Homo sapiens: one gene and its partner. The protein of the gene in region 1 interacts with the protein of each later gene in a pairwise test. Each region holds a gene or a part of one and is shown in the gene's direction. Other genes may lie near its edges.

The links.
Region 2: the proteins of MAPK10 (region 1) and KIF26A interact in a two-hybrid assay, tested with the Homo sapiens proteins (one large-scale study listed by BioGRID and IntAct).

What each region holds. Positions count from the first base shown.
Region 1 is NC_000004.12:86,097,874-86,101,693, reverse strand, and holds part of MAPK10 (mitogen-activated protein kinase 10), read left to right. Parts: intron 1-476; coding exon 477-642; intron 643-2,408; coding exon of another isoform or gene 2,409-2,560; exon of another isoform or gene 2,561-3,092; intron 3,093-3,098; coding exon 3,099-3,170; intron 3,171-3,245; coding exon of another isoform or gene 3,246-3,253; exon of another isoform or gene 3,254-3,820. UniProt on the Homo sapiens protein: Serine/threonine-protein kinase involved in various processes such as neuronal proliferation, differentiation, migration and programmed cell death.
Region 2 is NC_000014.9:104,176,551-104,179,274, forward strand, and holds part of KIF26A (kinesin-like protein KIF26A), read left to right. Parts: coding exon 1-1,348; intron 1,349-1,999; coding exon 2,000-2,205; intron 2,206-2,685; coding exon 2,686-2,724.

The sequences.
Region 1 (3,820 bases):
GGCTCATTGAGATGCAGCTTCTTAGAAGCCTCATGCTTTCAGCTCCTTGATTGGCAGAAGTCATATGTGCAACTGAAATAAGAAAATTCATTTCCATAGATGTTTCTGGCAGCATAAAGACAGCTTCCCTGATCTGTTCTTCTGTCAGGCCTAGAAATGATATATATGTTGAAAGATTTATGTTGTCCTAAGGAGAAACCTAACAGAAGACAATAAATATTTTTTTTTCTAAAACCTCTTCCCAAGATTAGTGTAAATTGTGAAAATGATAATACAATTCTTTTCTGGGATTAAAACACTTTCCAAAAACTAATAGTTAACTTATTTGTAGCAGTAATCATTTGCCTTATTTAGAGCTCTGTAGGCAAGGGGGACCTCATCAGTGCTACTGCAAAATGGCTATGTTGATTGAGTCAATGGAAATAACATTTCACTTGATACTGGCTTTTAATTTTTTCCCTTATCCTTACTGTTAGGATTTAAAACCAAGTAACATTGTAGTCAAGTCTGATTGCACATTGAAAATCCTGGACTTTGGACTGGCCAGGACAGCAGGCACAAGCTTCATGATGACTCCATATGTGGTGACACGTTATTACAGAGCCCCTGAGGTCATCCTGGGGATGGGCTACAAGGAGAACGGTAGGGATGCTTCGGGAGAGCAGCATCAAAACCATGAATGAAACGGGTGCACGTTGTAGATAGCCAAGGGGAATGTTCTCTTTTATGTACATGCTTTTATAAAGTAGGGCTGCCAGATAGCATATTCAGGGTTTTTTTTAATACTACTGGTAAGAAACACTCATTAAAAATGTGAAGGATGTTATTGAGAAGTCAGTTTTGCTAGAAGAGCACTAAATGTTAATAGTGAAAAAGAATTGTAAATGGAGTCTGATTAAACAGTCAAGCGGATGCTGATTAGCACACGTGCCTAGATATTGAGAAAAATTGCTATTTGGGTTGCAGCTCAGCTGAGCATGAGTGTGAAAGCAGAAAGGAATCTACCACAGTTAGCCATGTGGCTTTTATGTTGTATCTCAGACTGATGGCTGTAGTTCTAGAAAAAGACAAGCAAAAAAGTGACACAAATCCTTAGAGTGAAAATCTTCATAGACAACTTTGAAATAATCCAAATTATTTAAACTGAATAAGAATTTCTGTAATAATTTAAGCTGCTCTGTAAGAAACATTTAGAGTAGCAATTGCCTAATAAATCCTTATATATTCCAAAAATCGTAAAAAAGGAAAATGTCAAATTTGACACTACTGCTTTCATAAAGAAAACTTAATGTTCATGAACACTTTAAAATGAAGGCTATGGAAGGAATCTTAAAAATGTATCACAATTGAGTGTAGTTGATTAAAACTAAGGATTTATTAAATATGTTAGAAAGCATTGCAATGTATTATTTTGATGAGACTATATCTTACAAGTAATGCACCATATTGAAAACATATTCAATATACTTAGGAATTAAAATAGTTTTAAATTAGGATTGTATATGTATTCAGTGTATCTTTAATATTTATTTTTATATTCTATTCTATTTAGTTTTTAGCAGTCTGTATTAATAAGTTTTATAAAAATAATCAGTGTATTTTTATGTACAGGTGCTACAGGGTACTTTTGTGAAAATTCCCTGGCCACTGAAGTTTACAGAAACTTCTTTGTATACTCTTAGATTAGAAGACAGATAATGTATGTATGCATTTATACAGAGGAAGTTAAAAAGTCACCTCTTACAAAGGTCAGGTTCACCCTGGTGGGCAATATCGGAGTTCTGGTACCTTTTGACTCAGAAGAGATGAATCTAGCCCTCCTTGCTAGGCAATACCACATCTAATTTATTCAGAAAAGAAGACATTTTTATACTTTCTTCACGAGTTATTTTTAAAAAGTCAAAGGAGAAACAAAGTCAAGAATCAAGAATGTACAGGAGACTGGGGGGTGGGGCGGTCTGAATTTGCCTATTTGGGCTTTCAGATCTTGGCACTACCAATAGCTGGTATTAAAATCCCTTTCCCTTCCCTCACTAGAAGGAATTGCAAGTTGCTGCCTTAGGTTTTTGACTTCTCTAAGTCCATGGAGGAGGCCTGCCTAGCACCCTGGTGCTGCCCTCCCACCAATGGGAGGAAGGTTATCATGCAGAAAAACCTGCTTGCTCCCACATCAGGCATGCCCTGCTGTCCCCTGCACCTAGCCCCGCCTTCCTTCCCCATGGAACAATTCGGCCAAATGATTCTGCCCAAAAGTTCCCTTTGTCCATAATGAAAAGCAAGTTGGAAAGGGGTAAAGATTGGTAAGAGAAGGCAAAGCATGTTTTCCTAACAAGTTTGACAATTTGGAAATAAATATATGTACATAACAATTTTTAACACCTTTAATACTTTTTTCACTTTCCTTCCAGATGACTCCTTTATACATGTGCTAATTCATCATATGTCTTTTTTCTTGAAATATTTCAAATGGAAACTAAAACTGATGTTTATTTACAAGAATAAACTTCTGAAGGAAAAGCTAAGTCCCAAATACCAGGAATTCCAATTCTTTTGCCTCTAAACCATGGTTCCAGTCATTTCCTGGTTTATTGGATTTGGTTGAATTTATCTTGTTTTGCCCCGGCCCCCTGGCCCCCTGAAAAAAAAGGTGGTCTCTTGTTGCCCTATTCTCTGTAACTGAATAGAATAGAAAATGAAAATAGCCAACTCTACAAGTTAATATTGTTTTCTATGCATCCGGAAAATGACACAGAAAACCCTTTGGTGGCTTTTAGCTGTCACCTGCCATGGAGATACTTTTGGTTTAGCTATTGCTTTTCTCAGTCACCAATGTCACCACTTTGTGGCACTGCTGAGAGGCAATGTAAGGCACCCACAAAGTAATGGGTTTTTAAACATTAATTTGAGTTCTCATACTAAACACTGTTTATGTAATAGCATAGCGCTGGTTTGAATTCACATTTTGGCCAACTTTTGGTGGGAGGTGAAAATTGTACTTTTAATCAAACTGTTCTTTTTCCTCCTCCTTCAGAAGTCAATTATCTTAGTTAACTTTACTTTCCTCCCTTTTCTTCACTACCCTCTCTCTCCTGTTCTAGTGGATATATGGTCTGTGGGATGCATTATGGGAGAAATGGTTCGCCACAAAATCCTCTTTCCAGGAAGGGACTGTATCCTTGTACCTTTTGCTACAGCTTTACCTGTTTTGTTCTCTCTCCCTTTTAAACACATAATGATTTTACCAGGAGAGTAAAGATAGAAGCAAAAAGTTGGGTAAGTGGTGTTATTGTAATAAAAAAGTGATAATTTCTATAATCTGACCAGTACTGAAGACTGCCTACCACAATGATTTCTTTTAATTAAATTTCAATGGGCTTTTTTCTTCTAAAATTACTTTCTTGCCTGCAACTAAAAATAGAAATGCTATTTTTCTTTAATAACAAAGGCTACCAGATCCCAAATGATTAAAATATATTTACCTTTATAACTAGCAAAATAAGTCACTATTTGCAAGTCATTTTCCATCTCCTTTCTAAAACTATTTTGTGCTTCTACAATATTTAGGCATAATAATTGCTCTCCTTGCTGACATTCTAAGCTTCTGTCTATGGCTTTGTTGATTTAAATTACTCGACACTAAATCAAGTCTTTAACAGGTCAATATAGCATATCTTCCTCAAAACATGAACTTCTGCATTTAAAAATTGTAATTATTGTTCAAGTTGCTAGTGGTCAGGTGAGTTTAATGTAGACTTCTCTCACCTGACTTGGAGATGTGACATAGACATACATGCTTGTTTTCCCAACTAAATTTATAATT
Region 2 (2,724 bases), on another chromosome or scaffold:
GCTTCTGCTGGCAGGGCCCCCAGCCCCACACTTGGCTCCCCCCGGCTGCCTGAGGCCCAGGTGATGCTAGCCTGTGCCCAGAGAGTGGTGGACGGGTGTGAGGTGGCAGCCAGGGCGGCCCGCAGGCCAGAGGCTGTGGCTCGGATCCCACCGCTGCGGAGGGGTGCCACCACGCTGGGTGTGACAACGCCAGCTGTGTCCTGGGGAGATGCTCCCACGGAGGTGGTGGCCTGCTCGGGGAGCCTGAAGGCCTCCCCCACCAGCAAGAAGGGTCTGGCTCCCAAGGCGGGCTTCCTCCCGAGGCCCAGTGGGGCGGCCCCCCCGGCCCCACCCACGCGGAAGTCCAGCCTGGAGCAGAGGAGCAGCCCGGCCTCGGCCCCTCCGCATGCTGTGAACCCGGCGCGGGTCGGGGCTGCTGCTGTCCTTCGAGGGGAGGAGGAGCCCAGACCCAGCAGCCGGGCTGACCACTCTGTCCCCAGGGCCACGTCCAGCCTGAAGGCCCGGGCCAGCAAGGTAGAAGCAGCACACCGTCTTGCCGGACACGCGTCTCTGGAGCGGTACGAAGGCCTGGCGCACAGCAGCAGCAAGGGCCGGGAAGCCCCTGGGCGGCCTCCCCGGGCTGTACCCAAGCTGGGTGTGCCACCCTCCAGCCCCACACACGGTCCAGCTCCCGCCTGTAGGAGCGGCGCAGCCAAGGCTGTGGGGGCCCCCAAGCCCCCTGTTGGTGGAGGCAAGGGCCGTGGCCTAGTGGCTGGTGGGTCGCGGGCTCTGGGGCCTTCGGTGAAGCTGTCTACGGCCTCTGTGACGGGCAGGAGCCCTGGCGGCCCTGTGGCCGGTCCCAGAGCAGCCCCACGGGCCGGGCCCAGTGTCGGGGCGAAGGCTGGCCGGGGTACCGTCATGGGCACAAAGCAGGCGCTCCGGGCTGCTCACAGCCGCGTCCATGAGCTGTCAGCCAGTGGAGCCCCGGGCCGAGGTGGCTCCTCGTGGGGCTCGGCGGACTCAGACAGCGGCCATGACAGCGGCGTGAACGTGGGGGAGGAGCGGCCACCCACGGGCCCGGCCCTGCCCTCCCCCTACAGCAAGGTGACCGCCCCACGGCGGCCCCAGCGCTACAGCAGCGGCCATGGCAGCGACAACAGCAGCGTGCTGAGTGGAGAGCTGCCGCCCGCCATGGGCCGCACCGCCCTTTTCCACCACAGCGGTGGCAGCAGTGGCTATGAGAGCCTGCGGCGCGACAGCGAGGCCACCGGCAGCGCCTCCTCCGCCCCTGACTCCATGAGCGAGAGTGGGGCTGCCTCCCCAGGCGCCCGCACCCGCAGCCTCAAGTCCCCCAAGAAGAGGGCCACAGGTGGGTGCAGAGGTGCACAGCCCTCTACAGTTTACGGGCTTTCTGTGTGTAGATGTGCACAGCCCTCTACAGTTTACAGGGCCAGGAGATGCTGGACAGATGGGCACAGCCTTCAAGGTCCCAGACCCACACAGCCGTGGACGGTTTACAGACTCGCCTGGGGCTTTTTGTGTGTGGAGGTGCACGGCCCTCTGCAGTTTATAAACCCCCTGTACTTGCCCTTCTCTGGCCCCACCCTGCCCTGGGGGGCTGATCCTGGTCTGTGTCTGGGTGAGCACAAGGGCAGCCCTGCACAGGTCGCCAGGCTGGGGCACTGGACTCGGGTTTGGGTCCCGGGCCTCGTGCCTCCCTGGCGAGTGTCGAGCTGCCTGGAAGGCCCCCGCCAGGGCTGCCCCAAGGGACAGAACTGCTCAGGTCATGGCAGGGAAAGTGGGAGGCCCTGGTGGTGGTGGGGGCGCCCTTGAGAGCTGTGGGCCTGGCTTGGGGTCGGCTTCCTCCCTGCCCTGGGCAGAGCGCCAGCCTGAGGATTCCTGGACTGGATCCCGAAGGCCTCCCTGTCAGGACTCGGGCCGGCTCCGCAGCGTCCCCGCAGGGGCTGTGCTTGGGCTGGGCCCCGCCTCTGTTCACCCTGTGCCCGGCTCTCCGTTCCAGGTCTGCAGCGGCGGCGCCTGATTCCCGCCCCACTGCCCGACACCACTGCCCTGGGCCGTAAGCCCAGCCTCCCCGGGCAGTGGGTGGACCTGCCCCCGCCCCTGGCTGGCTCCCTGAAGGAGCCGTTCGAGATCAAGGTGTACGAGATCGATGACGTGGAGCGCCTTCAGCGGCCCCGCCCCACCCCGAGGGAGGCCCCCACCCAGGTAGGGCCTTTGGTGGGCTGGGGTCTATGACCCCTGGTGGGGAGCCTGCCGCGGATGGCAGAGTGAGCCATTTGATGGGCTCGCCAGGCCTCTGGGGGTGTGGCTGGGCAGCCCCTGACCTCACTTTCTGTCCACGTTCCTCCCAGGACGCAAAGGTAGGAGCGGCCCTGCCCAGCCCAAGCCTGTTGCAGCTCCGACACTCCCCTTGGGCAGTGGGTGGGTGGCTGGGGGGTCCTGAGGCCACTGCTGCTGTCCGCTGGAATTCTCCCCTGTCGTGGGGAGGGTGGTCCTAGAGCCGAGCCAGGACCCAGACGGGCATGGGTGGGCTGCCCCAGGTCCGCCCCCTGCCCGCCCTTGGAGCCCCACTGTGTGCCTGCCAAGGCCTGGCAGGTGAAGGGAGGCGGGGGCCACATCAGGGCTGCTTGGGGGTCTCTGGGGAGAGGGTCCCATGCCTGAGCCCCCGCCCGCCCTGCCTCCCAGGGTCTGGCGTGCGTCAGTACAAGGCTGCGGCTGGCGGAG